Regions from separate parts of the Homo sapiens genome. Here all the other regions are reported to be linked to region 3. Evidence: microRNA targets listed by miRTarBase, many of them from high-throughput screens and not tested one by one. Region 3 holds a microRNA gene; each other region holds the end of a gene's coding sequence.
What was found. The annotated mature microRNA hsa-miR-545-3p reads UCAGCAAACAUUUAUUGUGUGC and lies in region 3 at 1,759-1,780, shown strand. An mRNA with a match to its seed (bases 2 to 7 or 8) in the 3' UTR can be bound and repressed. Matches are read on the target gene's strand: a 7mer-m8 pairs with bases 2 to 8, a 7mer-A1 pairs with bases 2 to 7 and ends in A, and an 8mer does both.

Region 1: miRTarBase lists UBXN2A as a target of hsa-miR-545-3p. The part of its 3' UTR that is shown has no 7-base or 8-base seed match.
Region 2: miRTarBase lists CLSPN as a target of hsa-miR-545-3p. Seed matches in the 3' UTR shown: 7mer-m8 at 1,952-1,958 and 7mer-m8 at 3,009-3,015.

The regions. Positions count from the first base shown.
Region 1 is chr2:23,999,048-24,004,124 of GRCh38, reverse strand. It overlaps UBXN2A (UBX domain protein 2A), which reads right to left. Exons shown (of 7, transcript NM_181713.4): 7 at 1-4,453. The coding sequence ends at 4,258. Among named protein-coding and RNA genes, the nearest start is that of MFSD2B, 8.5 kb to the left of the region's middle.
Region 2 is chr1:35,732,180-35,737,256 of GRCh38, reverse strand. It overlaps CLSPN (claspin), which reads left to right. Exons shown (of 25, transcript NM_022111.4): 24 at 182-343; 25 at 651-5,077. The coding sequence ends at 761. Among named protein-coding and RNA genes, the nearest start is that of CLSPN-AS1, 4.7 kb to the left of the region's middle.
Region 3 is chrX:74,283,829-74,288,905 of GRCh38, reverse strand. It overlaps MIR545 (microRNA 545), which reads left to right and starts at 1,697; the gene lies at 1,697-1,802. All of the region lies in intron 1 of FTX (FTX transcript, XIST regulator), which reads left to right. MIR374A (microRNA 374a) reads left to right here and starts at 1,549; the gene lies at 1,549-1,620. It overlaps LOC124905199 (a long non-coding RNA gene), which reads left to right. Exons shown (of 2, transcript XR_007068266.1): 2 at 1-1,041. RefSeq lists an enhancer at 4,587-5,077.

The sequences.
Region 1 (5,077 bases), not on the chromosome of region 3:
TCTTTGAGGATATTATTCGCATTAATGAACGTTTCACAGTTAGAATAATGAAGGTTATTGATGACAACAGGTCTTTCTCCATAGGACCCTTACTGGGATGTATTCTACAGGTACATACAAAAGAACCTCCCATGTATCTTCTGGTTAAATAATTATAAACCGGAAAATCTACCAAAGAGGCTTTTCTATAGGTACACAGGAAACATTCTCAATGAGAGACCCCTACATGGAGAATCATATGTTGACTATAATTATGCAAATAAAAATGCTACATGATAGGCCTATATGAAACATTTTCTTAGATTCCTGAACATGTATTAACTGTCATCCTGTTATTTTCTATATCAGAAAGATAAGCTCATTGATTTTATCATTGCCTCTTTTTTTTTTTTTTTTTTTTGGTAAGAACATTATTTTTGTTTCACTACAGAGAGGCTCTAACACTGCTGTGTAAACATTACCAACAATAATTATTTATTTTCTATTATGTACCTGTTCATTTCTAAGAGTAATGGACAAAAGAAAAGGCTCTCCTTTGTCCTCCCTCTCTTCCTAATTAAAAGAGCCTTCTGCCCCATGGAAGGCTGGGAGCTAGGAAAAGCAGCATTCTCACAATAGACTGCAATCAGAAGATAGATTTTATGTCAGGTCATCTAGTTACATAGATATTTCCCTGTTGTTATTCCTGAGTCCTTAGTAAAAACCTTAATTAAATGTTCCAGCCTTGTCTCGGCTGTGCTATAGGAGGTAAAGCACAAGTTTATGTCATGATTGGTTCAGTGACAAAAGGGAACAGACTCTTTCCAAGAGCAAACTGGGTGACAAGGATAAACTTAGTGGTCTAGCAGATGTGTTTCAGTGGAGTCTCCCACCGTCCATGGTGAAAGCATGCAGGTTTTATTTTCTCAGGGTAAAAGCTTAGGACAGAATTTCCTGAAGAAAGGTACTTCCACCACATACTTAAGAATCACGTGAGATTAAAAATGCAGAGATCTGAGACCCATCACAGATACAGTGAATCAGAATCTTTGTGGTAGGTGGCAGGAATGGCATTTTTGAAAAGCTGCCCCAAATGATTCTGAAACTAAGGCTTCAGAATCATTGTGAACCATCACTTTATATAGATTGGTTCTCAAAGTGTGCCTGAGGGATCCCTGGAGATTCCCAAGACCCATTCAGGGCACTGTGAAGTCAAAACGTTTTTCATAATCATACTAAGGCATTATTTGCTTCTTTTCATTCTTTCACCAGTATACAGAGGTGTTTTCCAGAGTCTACATGATATGTGACTGCACAACAGACTGAATGTAGAAGACATGAGAACCCATCTATCTTCTTTATGACAGAAAGTAATTCCCCCCAAAAAACCGGCCACTTTTCTCACTAAATCGTTTCATGTTTTATAAGTTATTATTGGCTGGGCACAGTGGCTCACGCCTATAATCCTAGCACTTTGGGAGGCCAAGGCGGGCGGATCACCTGAGGTTACGAGTTAGAGGCCAGCCAGGCCAACATGGCGAAACCCCGTCTCTACTAAAAATACAAAAATTAGCCAGGCGTGGTAGTGGGCGCCTATAATCCCAGCTACTCGGGAGGCTGTGGCAGAAGAATCGCTTGAACCCGGGGGGACAAGTTGCAGTGAGCCAAGATCGCGCCATTGCACTCTAGTCTGGGGGAAAGAGCAAAACTCTATCTCAAAAAAAAAAAAGTTATTATTATTACGGCAGGGTCTTACTCTGTTGCCTAAGCTAGAGTGCAGTGGCGCAATCTCGGCTCACTGCAACCTCTGCCTCCTGAGTTCAAGCAATTCTCCTCCCTCAGCCTCCCTAGTAGCTGAGATTACAGGCATGTGCCACCACACCAGGCTAATTTTTGTATTTTTAGTACAGACATGGTTTCACCACATTGACCAGGCTGGTCTCGAACTCCTGACCTCAGGTGATCTGCCCGCTTTAGTGTCCCAAAGTGCTGGGATTACAGGTGTGAGCTACTGCACTAATTTTTGTAATTTTTATAGATAGAGTTTTGCCTTGTTGCCCAGGCTGGTCTCAAACTCCTGGGCTCAAGTGATCCACCTGTCTTGGCCTCCCAAAGTGCTAGGATTACAGGCGTGAGACACCATGTCCAGCCAGAAGTTATTTTTAAATGAATAATTTTTTTTTTTTGAGAAAGAGTCTCGCTCCGTCACCAGGCTGGAGTGCAGGGGCGCAATCTCGGCTCACTGAAACCTCCACCTCCCGGGTTCAAGCCATTCTCCTCCCTCAGCCTCCCACGTAGCTGGGACTACAGGCGCATGCCACCACACCCAGCTAATTTTTTTTGTATTTTTAGTAGAGACGGGGATTCACCATGTTGGACAGGATGGTCTCAATCACTTGACCTTGTGATCCGCCTGCCTCAGCCTCCCAAAGTGCTGGGATTACAGGCGTAAGCCACCGTGCCTGGCCCATAAATAAATATTTTAAAAATTTAATATTTAATATAATAATATATATAGCTCACATAAACAAATGGTCTTGAGATAAAAATGTTTGAGAGTTGCTGTTTCATAGCAGGCATCTCGCACCCTATGAACATTACTGCTGCTATGGACCACTTAGTTCCTTGGCACACTCAATGCATGCTTCATTTTAAATCTGATTCAATAGATCATTTGCAAAAAAAAATGTTAAACTTATTTTCAGGTATGGGGATTTAATCTGACAGTGAAAAATTGAGGTCTAACTGGATTTAGTTAAAGTCTGAGATATAAAGCCTGTTTTTCTTCGTGATATCAAAATGAAATAATCTTTAAATGTATTCACAAGTTGACTCTGATGTATGAAACAGAAAACCAGCTGGGCACGGTGGTTCACACTTGTAATCCCAGCACTTCAGGAGGCCTAGGCAGGCAGATCCCCTGAGGTCGGGAGTTCGAGACCAGCCTGACCAACATGGTGAAATCCCGTGTCTACTAAAAATGCAAAATTAGCCAAGCATGGTGGCGCATGCCTGTAATCCCAGCTACTTGGGAGGCTGAGCAGGAGAATCTCTTGAACCCGGGAGGTGGAGGTTGTGGTGAGCTGAGATTGCGCCACTGCACTCCAGCCTGGGCAACAAGAGCGAAACTCCATCTCAAACAAACGAAAAAGAAACAGAAAACCATACTTTATATGATGCATTTAAAAAATACTAGTAATGTGACACACACCGGCATTATATTCTAAGTGAGTGGTGGCAAATGAATGGCTAATCCCAAATGTTAGCCAAAAACAAATCCATAATTTTTGAAAGAAAATAAAATGGAAAGGGAATAGGCTTTTTAGAAAGATAATTTTCTTTTATTACATTTTTATAAAGTGTAGAAATGTGAGTAGGCAGATTAATCTTGATACTATACTGAGCTACACAATTTTATTCTTTTATTTTTTAAATTAAAAAAATATATAGACAGGGGTCTCACTCTGTTGATCATTCTGGTTTTAAACTCCTGGCTTCAAGTGATCCTCCCATCTCAGCCTCCCAAAGTGCTGGGATTACAGGCATGAGCCATTGCACCCGGCCACAATTATTTATATTTATTTTACTTTATTTTATTTATTTTTGAGAGGGGGTCTTGCTCTGTCGCCAAGCTGGAGTACAGTTGCTCAATCTCAGCTCACTGCAACCTACACTTGCCAGGTTCAAGAGATTCTCCTGCCTCAGCCTCCCGAGTAGCTGGGACTACAGTTGCGCACCGCCACGCCCAGCTAATTTTTGTATTTTTACTAGAGATGGGGTTTCACCATGTTTGCCAGGATGGTCTCAATCTGTTGACCTCGTGATCTGCCTGTCTCGGCCTCCCGAAGTTCTGGGATTACAGGCATGAACCACTGTACCCGGTCGTATTAGCTATTTAAAAACTCAGACAGCTAACATTTAAATAAATCCCTGCTGTCTGGGAATGATGTCTGAATGAATATTGTGAATACATATGCTAATTTATACCATATTAAGATTCTAAACAATACAGCTATTTAATATATCTTGATAACTGGTATTTGAAAATAAGTCTATTTTTCTGGGTAGTCTTTTGGAGAAAGTGCACTGAATATAGTTTCCAGTCATATGCTACTTTCTTAACTTGTACTTATCTAAACATCTTCTCATCAGGAGAGAGTTCAATAGTACTCGAACCAAAAGTCTAGTGAGTCTGACTTCTCCAATCCCCAATTTTGGTTTGCATGTCCACTTACAACCATCATTTCTCTGCAAATTTTCCACTTAGTCTATCAAAAATCAGTGCTCTGAAAGTTCTCTAAAAGATGCAGTTTTTTGGAGTCTCTGAATGATGACAGCATTCTGTAAATCTGCTTCTTCCAGTGTGAGTGTCTCATCTAGCAACCTGAGGACAGGAAGAGCTGTTGCCAGGGAAAACGGAGGACTTCTTTGAGATCCTTGGTATTTTTCAATGAAGTCTTTGATATGGCTTACTCTGTAAAACAGCAAAAACTATTAATATAATTTTAGGAAAATTTGAATTACCTAATTTATAGTAACAACAACTGGTAAAAGTATCTGGATATGTTATTATTAGAGATAGCGTCTTGCTTTGTCACCCAGGATGCAGTGCAGTGGTGCCATCATAATAACTCCTGGGCTCAACTGATCCTCCTGCCTCAGCCTCCCAAAGTGCTGAGATCACAGGCATGAGCCACAACACCCAGACTCTGGATATGTTAATATATAGAATAACTGAATTTATGATATAACTGATTATTTGGGCTATCTTTTAAAGTTTGACTCCCAGAAATTTGATGACAATACTACTACTACTGTTAATTATCTTAGGTAAGATAATTAGTACTATGAATTACTACTGTTAATTATCTTAGGTAAGACAAAGGAATTATGGCTATGTTTTACAGAGGCTGTCACAATTGTATCATGATCGTCATGTAGCCATGGATTATAGAATGCATCCTCATTTCACAGATGCTAAAATGTGAAAAAATGTGCAACTCAGAATTAATGAAATATGCCTATCACTAAAGAAAGAATTCTCTCATTCAATCAATTCACTAAAATTCACTACGTGCCACTTTATTAAACCTGTAAG
Region 2 (5,077 bases), not on the chromosome of region 3:
ATTAGAGGAAGGAGGTGGCTGCAGGGAAAAAGTTAATGTCAAAGGAGTCTGCTATTTCTTTTCTATTTGAATAGGGTAGGCATATGTACCCTCAATATCTAGGGGGAAGCAGGGAGGGAAGGACTTTTCATTCTTTAGTTGGCACTTGGGATTTGATACCAGATGACTCTTCTTTCCTCAGGTGAAGACAGGCTCACTGCTAAACCAGCCCAAAGCTGTGCTTCAGAAACTGGCTGCTCTCTCTGACCATAACCCCAGTGCTCCTCGAAATTCAAGAAACTTTGTCTTTCATACACTTTCTCCTGTCAAGGCTGAGGCGGCAAAGGAATCGTCTAAGTCTCAGGTATGGAATTTGAGAACTAATATGGTGGCTTCCCAAACCAGAATTTATTCATTTATTTAAATTTAAAAACAAAAATTCTGGCTTAACCTCTATGCTGCAATGTTGAAATCTTGCACTCCCCGATAAGGTACAAGAGAATTGCTACCCCAGTCGGTAATCAACTTTTAAACTTGCCGAGAAAGTTTATCTTTCTTTCTTTTTTTCTGTTGTTAATCATCCACAATTTATGAGTTGCTTGAGAGCTAATTGAAGGTAAATACTTGTATGAAGGTCTTTAGCTGGCCCTGACTCCCTCTCTGCTCTCTAGGTAAAGAAAAGGGGTCCATCTTTCATGACTTCTCCTTCACCTAAGCACCTCAAAACAGATGATAGCACTTCAGGATTGACGCGAAGCATCTTCAAATATTTGGAGAGCTAACACCATCAAAGGTGCCAAAATCTACATTGAGACTGCTTTGAGAAGTTTCTAGCACTGAAAGTTGGAATTGACACTCCAGCCAATGATCCTTCCTTCTTTCATAATCAATGCAATAAGATTGCAGACAGAAATTCCAGTGATTTCTACTGCACAGCTCTGGACATCTCTTTTCCTAGTATTATTCCCTGAATTGGCCACTGATTTCAATTCTGCAGTATTTACAACATCAACAACTCATGGAATACTTGGGTGAGGTTTCCTTTTTTTTTTTTTTTTTAAGATGGGAGTCTCACTCTGTTGCCCAGCTTGGAGTGCAGTGGCGTGATCTCGGCTCACCACAATCTCTGCCTCCCAGGTTCAAGCGATTCTCCTCCTTCAGCCTCCCGAGTAGCTGGGATTACAGGCATGTGCCAATACGCCCAGCTAATTTTTGTATTTTTAGTAGAGACGGGGTTTCACCATGTTGGCCAGGCTGGTCTTGAACTCCTGACCTCAAATGATCCATCCACCTCGGCCCCACAAAGTGCTGGTCACATGCATGAGTCACTGCACCTGGCCTTGGGTTAGGTTTCACTTCCTCCATTAGACATTTGACATTTTATTGTAGCAGCTTTCTGGGTTAATATCTCTTTGTGATTGATAGAAGTGGTTGGAAGAGGAAGAGTAGGGAAAAGTGTGACATTACAGATTAAACAGTGAAAATCAGTACCATAATGACTCCTTTACACCCATGAGATACGTACCATGATGACCAGGGCTCGGTGAAAGAAAGATTTCTTTTTTTTTTTTTGAGATAGTCTCACTTTGTTGCCCAGTCTGGAGTGCAGTGGCGCAATCTCGGCTCACGGCAACCTCTGCCTCCCGGGTTCAAGTGATTCTCCTGTCTCAGCCTCCCAAGTAGCTGGGACTACAGGTGCATGCCACCACACCTGGCTAATTTTTGTATTTTTAGTGGAGACAGGGAGTCACCATGTTGGCCAGGCTGGTCTCGATCTCCTGACCTCAAGTGATCCAGCTGCCTCAGCCTCCCAAAGTGCTGAGATTACAGGCGTGAGCCACTGTGCCCAGCCAAAAGAACGATTTCTTAGATGGAGGACCTAGGAACCAACAGATGGGCTGCTGTATTACTCTTACCCCTTTCATTTTCCTGTATGCTTCTTCCCAAGGCAGCATCAAATTTTGAATTAATTTTTGCTGCTTAATAAGGACTTAAACTGGTACCCAAGTCAGAAAGACTCTGCCTCTAATTTTCTGGGGCTTGGGGATGAAGATAAAGTGTTACACCCAGTGTTTGTCCACCACAGTCTGTGGGGCAGAGAGACCCTTCCTGGGACTGAATTCTCAATTTGAAGCACTGTTGTTCAAAGATCTCCCTTCTGGGTCTGACAAGAAGAAACATAACCCTTATTTATTGCATTCTTCTGGCTTACATACATTGCCCTCACTAATCAATGGACATTTCAGCATTTCATTACTAATTTTGAGAGAAGGCCACCATGGAATTTAATAAAAATATTATTGAAGAGAATTGCCATCATTCTCCATTTTCCCTGAACTACCACAAGCTTCTCAGAATTTTAGACAAATGTTTTTCCCCTCAGAACTGAGCATCAGTGCTGCTTTGGAAAAACATTCCATGTGAATACTGTGGTTTCAGTGTCAGGACCTGTACTTGGGCAGTTGGAAGAGAGTGTGCCAGTTTTTTACTGGGAGATGGGAACACCAATTTAATTGATGCAATTAGGTTGTAGGTTTTTTACAGTTTTTCTTTTCTTTTCTTTTTCTTTTTCTTTTCTTTTCTTTTCTTTTTTTTTTTTTGAGACATAGGCTGGCTCTGTCACCTAGGCTGGAATACAATGGCATGATCTCGGCTTACTGCAACCTCCGCCTCCTAGGTTCAAGCAATTCTGCCTCGGCCTCCCAAATAGCAGGGATTACAGGCACCTGCCACCACTCCCAGCTAATTTTTTGTATTTTTATTAGAGATGAGGTTTCGCCATGTTGGCCAGGCTGGTCTTGAACTCCTGACCTGAGGTGATCCACCCGTCTCGGCCTCCCAAAGTGCTGGGATTATAGGCATGAGCCACCGCACCCGGCCGGTTTTCTACAGTTTTCTAATACTCAAGATGTTGACTTTGACAATACTTATGTTTGTATACTTGTAATCTTATAATGGGGAAAATGTGTATAAAGATGTTTTAATATGTATGTAGTTTTTCAATAAATCTTAATGCCTTGAAGGGAAGATTTGCTGTCCAGCTTGAATGCTCATTCTTGGGTCAGTGCCTGTCTAACCTTGAGGAGCATTTCATTTTCAGGTTATCTCCATCCCAGGGAAACCCTCTGGGTCTAAACTGAGAAGCTGCTGCAATTGTCCCCTCACTGGCTTCTCAGTCCTAGTGAATTGATCAAGTTAACTTACCAAGTGGTTTGGGTTCAGCTCAGGTGAAGAGGATAATTGAGTTTACATAAATGGTACCTTCTATTATAGCTCTTTGTTTAAAAAACTTATTTTTTAGAGACAGTCTCATTCTGTTGCCCAGGTTAGAGTGCAGTGGCACAATCATAGCTCACTGTACCCTTGAACTCCTGGGCTTCAGCATCCTCCTTCCTCAACCTTTGGAATAGCTGGGCCACATTACAGGCATATGCCACCATGCCCAGCTAATTATTTTATTTTAGTAGAGACAGGGTCTTGCTGTGTTGCCCCAGCTGATCTTGAACTCCTGGCCTCAAGTAATCCTCCCACCTTGGCCTCCCAAAATGCTGGGGTCACAGGCTCAGCCACCATGCCCAGCCTGTTACAGCTTTGATTGGCCTTTCTCTTTAGCTAAGTTTGTATGTACTTCATTTTATCCATGGGTTCAAGATACATGTTTTTGCCTCTTTCTTTGAACTCTCTAAACAGTTCCCAAGGCAAAGTAGCCCTTGCTGGGCAAAAGAGAACTGAGCAGGAAGGCTAGATATTTCTTCCCTCTTGTTTCCCTACATGTCTTTTGAGGAGAGATAGAAAAGACAATTGGAATTGACAACTGAGGATAAGAAAATTCAGCCAGGTCCGGTGGCTCACGCCAGCACTTTAGGAGACTGAGGTGGGTGCATTGCTTGAACTCAGGAGTTCGAGACCAGCCTGGGAAACATGGTGAAATCCCAACTCTAAAAAAAAAAAAAAAAAGAAAAAAAAAAGAAAATTAGTGCCTGAGAAATCCAGGGAGAAAATGGTTTCTGGGCTGGGCGTGGTGGCTTATGCCTGTAATCTCAGCACTTTGGGAGGCTGAGGCAGCTGGATCACCTAAGGTCAGGAGTTGGAGACCAGACTGACCAACAAGGTGAAACCCCGTCTCTACTAAAAATACAAAAATCAGCCAGGCTTGGTGGTGGCAGGTGCCTGTAGTCCCAGCTACTTGGGAGGCTGAGACAAGAGAATTGCTTGAACCTGGGAGGCAGAGGTTGCAGTGAGCCGAGATCACGCCACTGCTCTCCAGCATGGGCGACAGAGTGAGACTCCCTCTCAAAAAAAAAAAGAAAGAAAGAAAATGGTTTCTGATTGAGGCTCCTGGGAGAAAGCACTCTTTGGAGAAAGAAAACTTGAGTCAAACTCTGGGTTACTTTTCCTTATGCCAGGATGGCTGCTATAAAGTAAGCTAAGCCTTGATCTTGGTAACAGGATTGACATGGACAGTTTCAATCTGACCCATATGCCCTTTGCCCAAAGCACTGAGCCAGCAGCATCAGTTATGTTTTAATGAAATTGAAGCCCCAGGACCTGCCACTATGGCTCTGAGGAGGACTCAGCTTCACTAGCTTGGAAATTACATATTTGGAGGGATGAGAGCCCATGAGTGTGGGAGATAGGGTAGGCTCAGTGTCAGTGTTTTTGTTTCTTCCTTGTTCCATACACTTGAGTAGGGATACATGGTATTAACCTCTTTAAACAGGTCTCTAATTTCATCTCATTAATTCACAGTTGCACAGCCATACTAGGGTCTCTTCCATAAACCATAAGATTTTATTCACCAAAGCTCTAGAGACAAGGTACTCAGATCTCTGTGGCATCCCTCATTTTCTCAACTGCTTCTCTACAAACTTCTCCTCACTTTGAGAGTTTCTAATGCTCAGGCTGGGAGACTTTTTAGGGGGTGTTTTTGGTTTTTATCTCCTAGGGTTATGTCTAATCACTCTTGTGGCATCCTGTCCTGGGATTTGTGCTCCTAAGGATAGAGGAGAGTATTTCTGGGAGGAGTGTTCCCATGATACTATTTGATTATGTCATCCTTGAGATGGTATTGTATCTTCTACCCTTATATCCTACTCAT
Region 3 (5,077 bases):
ACTGCTGTGTGGATACATGTCTGGTTCTTGGTAGCCATTTTGAGATAACATTTGTCTGACCTCTATCTTATTTTTGTTTTTATTTTTAGAGTGGAGGTCTTGCCCAGGCTGGTCTCGAACTCCTGGGCTCAAGCAATCTTTCTGCCTCCGCCTCCCAAAGTGCTGGGATTACAGGCATAAGCCACCTTACCCAGCCTTGTCTGACCTTTAAACAGAAATCCATTTCTTTTTATCTAAAAGGAAAGCACTTTTGAGTACTGTACAACAGTGGTGCTTCCTGGCTCTGGGCATGGGGAGAAGACAGGGCAACATTTTGTCCCTAATGAGAAACTAATTTAGACAAGAAACAAAACAGCGGTCCCTTCTCCCCCATCCATTCAGGGACTGGTCTTATTTTAAATATTTCTGAGTGGTCTGAGGGAGGATATGGGCAATATTGAAGTGTCCACATTTATACATACTGTTAAATGCTTTGGGGATGTGAAATGCTAATAGGAACACGCTAGCATGTGAGAAGGCACCAGGAGTGGGCTAATTGGCAGAAAGGAACAGTGTATAGGCAAGAGCAGTGAAATAACTTTAGGGGAAAATAGTATGTTAAGCTTATTAAATAACAGCCTCATAGAGACATTGGGTCCCAAAACAGTGATCTCAGTATAACTGTCAACAACTTGCTGATGTTATCAGCCCTATTTGCTGGTCAGAGACAAAAAAGCCAGTAAAAACCTAGGTATTATTAAGAAAGGTATGAGGCACAGAAAAATGCCATCTTATCTTTGTATAAAACCATCTGAACCAAATAACTATTACAGTAATAATCTTGCCTCAAGGAGTCTGTTACTATCACTCACATGATTTTGAAAAGGGAGTGGGCAGAGTGTGTTATCTCTCTGTTTCATTTTTCTTGTTTATAATACATAGGTGAATTAGATATTCTCAAAGGTCTTGGAGGGGTCTAATTCTGGTTTCCTGAAACTGAATGTTATTTCTAGTTTAGAGAATCTGTTTAATTATGTTTATTAAATAAACTTTTCTAACTTATTCCTACTCTGATCTGTATATTATCTATTTTGTATTTAATAACATTCTAACTTTTTTTTTCCAGTGAAGGATGAGGATTATTGGATTTAGAAGTGCCAAATGAGCTATTACTTACTGCTTTTTGCTATCCGGTTACACTGGGTTAATCCAGTTAGTTGTAAGCTCCCATTTTTCAGCATTTTGCTAGCTGTAGATATTAAACCAGGCTCATGTGGGTAGTAGGGTGGGGAGGTTAAGAGGAGTATAAGCAAAAAGGAAAAAAAAAAGCTCATATTTTAGAGGAGGGGATTGAGAAGTTCCTTTATTGGAAGTCTGTGCATGGAAGTCCCATTTTACATCATGCCAGTGTCTAGTTCCCAATTCCGTCTATGGCCACGGGTTAGGGAAAGCCTGAATATTTGAAATAACCGAAAAGCATTTAACCTTTGATTTCTATAATTTGTTCCTCACCTCTCTTGATGTTACAGCCAGCAGCAGCCTGGAGCAGCACCCCCTGGGAAGAAATTTTACATCGGCCATTATAATACAACCTGATAAGTGTTATAGCACTTATCAGATTGTATTGTAATTGTCTGTGTATATGCCTGTCTCTCTTCCTGTTATCAGTTAGACTGTGAGCTCCTTGAGGGCAAGGAAGGTGTCTTCATCTCCAGAGCCCAGCCTGGCACATTAGTAGGCCTCAGTAAATGTTTATTAGATGAATAAATGAATGACTCATCAGCAAACATTTATTGTGTGCCTGCTAAAGTGAGCTCCACAGGCTCTGGATTGTCAGCTGTTTCTTCAAAAAGCATGTGGTCAGAAATTTGATATTTCTGTATATATCTTCCTAAGAGTTTCTCATGAGACAATGCCATTTTTGTGTTTGGATTTCAGTCCTTGATATTTACAGATGTTGCAACTGTTGCTATTGCTGACACTTGCTTTCTTGGTGGGACTTGAGTGATAACTGTTAGATTGGGGCCTCATCCTCAGGGCCCAGGTAATCATCCAAATAGTATTCTTAGATAGGACTTTGCATTTTTCTTTCTTTTTTTTTTTTTTTTAAGGGACAGGTTCTCACTCTGTTGCCCAGGCTGGAGTGCAATGGTGCGAACACGGGTCACTGCAGCCTCGAACTCCTAGGCTCAGGTGATCTTCCACCTCAGCATTCTGAGTTAGGACTATAGGTGTGTGCCACCACCCCTGGCTAATGTTTGTATTTTTCGTAGAGAAGGGGTCTCGTTATGGTGCCCAGGCTGTTCTTGAACTCCTGGACTCAAGCGATCTACCTCCCTCAGCCTCCCAGAGTGCTGGGATTACAGGTGTGAGCCACTGCACCCAACCAGACTCCATATTCTAAACCAAGGGTGGGCAAACTTTATTGCCCATGGGCTACCTGTTTTTGTAAATACCATTCTATATTGGAACACAGCCATGTTCATTCATCGATGTTTTACCTGGGGCCGCTTTTGCGGCCCAGTGGCACAATTAAGTAGCTATTAGGTTGGTGCAAAAGTAGTTGCTGTTTTTGCCATTAAATATATTGGAGACATTGTGGCCCACAAAGCCTTTGTAGAAAAAGATCTGTGCCCACTCTGGATCATCACTCGACAGTGATGGTTTCATTTCTCATTCCATTCACCAGACCAGAAATTCATATTTATTTACTTCATTTGTCATTGCTTGTGACAAGTCTTTTTCCTCTTTTACAGATAAGCCAGCTAAGACATGTTTTAAAGTAGAAGATTATAAGACCTCCCCCAGGGTCCTGCAGTCAGTCAGTTATACCCTGCCCTTCAACATCAAGCTTTGAACCTCTACTCTAGAAATACCTTTTATTATATTCAAACTTGAAGCACGTGGACATAGCATGCTTTGGTGCCTTCGTCCTTGCCCCCCTCCTTCCTACACAGTTCTTTGCAATGAGAATATGGGAAATAAGGACTTAATGTGAGATAAGGCAGAAAGGTAAGCTGAGGCAAATGTTTAGAGGGTCCCTAACACTAATTTTTAAATGAAGAAGTGGGGTGTCTGAAATACTCATTTATTTAGATGTATACAGATAGTGAGCCTAGACTTCCAAGAGCTTAGAGCCCCTCCCCTTGTGCCTCCCCAACTTTACATGTACTATCTTGGTAACCTGCCTATGAATACATGTTGATTCATTTCACTTCATTAAAAAGTCGGAGAGCTCAAAGTCATATTTGAGAAAGCTAAATCTAAAACAAAATGGAGGAAACACTGAATAGGTTCATCTCGTTGGATAGGATCATCCTAGGAATAAAATATAATAGAAGGAAAGGTCTTACAGCCATATTTTTAAAGCTGCTTGCTGGATTTTTCCCAAAATTGTATTGTGAAAGTTGTCAAACATACATACAGAAAAGTTGAAAGAATTGTACGGTGAAAAGCCATGTACCCAACACCTAGATTTTATAATTAACATTTAACTATACAGTCATGTGTTGCTTAAAGACAGGATATGTTCTGAGTAATGGATCATTAAGTCATTTTGTTGTTGTGTGAACATCATAGGGGAGTGTACTTATACAAACCTAGATGGTATAGCTTACTACACACCTAGGCTATATGGTATAGCCTATTCCTCCTAGGCTACAAACCTGTACAGCATGTTGCTGTATTGAATACTGTAGGCATTTGGAATACAGTGGTAAGTATTTGTATATCCAAACATATCTAACATAGAAAAGGTACAGTAAAAACGTGGTGTTATTATCTTATGGGACCACCATTGTATATGCGCCTGTGACTGAAATGTTACTATAAGATTCAGGACTGTTTGTGTTATCACAGTAACTCATCTTTGTTGAATAGGTTTTAAAAATCTGTCTGTCTTCTGTGTTAATGTCATCTGTATCTGACCCATCATGGTGCTGAAAAAGCTTCTTTTCATTCTTATTTTTGTCTTCTAAGTCAGCATGAATACCAGCACAGCCCAACTATGTGTAAGCAGATCTGTGCAGGAATGAGAGTCCCAGGGAGAGAATCCACGTTGTTTCTGAAAGAAAATGGCTATAGCTCACTGTTGTTTACTGGAAATAGTAGGGGGAAGGAAAGATGGAAGTCCAGGTCCAGTGTCATATACTGCCCTGCACCTTACTCACTTCTCTGCCTTTAGGGTAGGTGGTTTTCTGAGCAGCTTCTGCTTGGTTCTCTCCTTTAAGGCTTGCTAAAGGAGAAACAACAATGTCATATTGAAATGCCAATGAGGCAATATTTAGCATTAGAATAACTTTGGAATTCTAGCAAATGGAATTTTAATTTGGGCTACTGTCTAATAGTATTCTTTGAGCCTTTTCTGTTAGCAACAGCTGCAGTTTCAATTAGGAAGCACCATGAAATTTTGTTTATCTTTATCCATGGACATGATAATGGTAAATGTTACCTGTTTGTGTCTCTCTCCTTTGATTTAAACTCAAGGGTAGAGATGTGTTTTACTGATCTTTGCAAATCTCTTACACTGTAAGATTTGTATTCATTTATAGGGATATACCCCCAAATATATGTTTAACATTATTTAAAAAAAGATTTAGATATGGGCATATTCACGGTGTTCATAACAGTAAATAATGGAAAAACTTACCTAGTCATGAATAGGAACTTGGTTAAATACATTTTGGTGTATTCATGTAATGGGACAGCATAGCCATTAAAAATAAAAATAGTCTTGAAGATAAATATTTGACTTGGAAAGAAGTATACAGTATATTAATTGAAAAAGGGCTAAAGGGCAATAGTATAGTTTCATCTAATCATTGTAAAATAAGAATTCATGTTTGTGTATGTACATGGAAGTTGTTGGATGAACATACCCCAAGTGTTAAACTTTTCTGGGATTCTGGCTGATTTTTTTTTTTGAGACGGAGTCTTGCTCTGTCGCCAGGCTGGAGTGCAGTGGCGTGATCTCGGCTCACTGCAACCTCCGACTCCCTGGTTCAAGCAATTCTCTTGCTTCAGCCTCCCGAGTGGGATTACAGGCATGCGCCACCACGCCCAGCTAATTTTTGTATTTTTATTAGAGACGGGGTTTCAC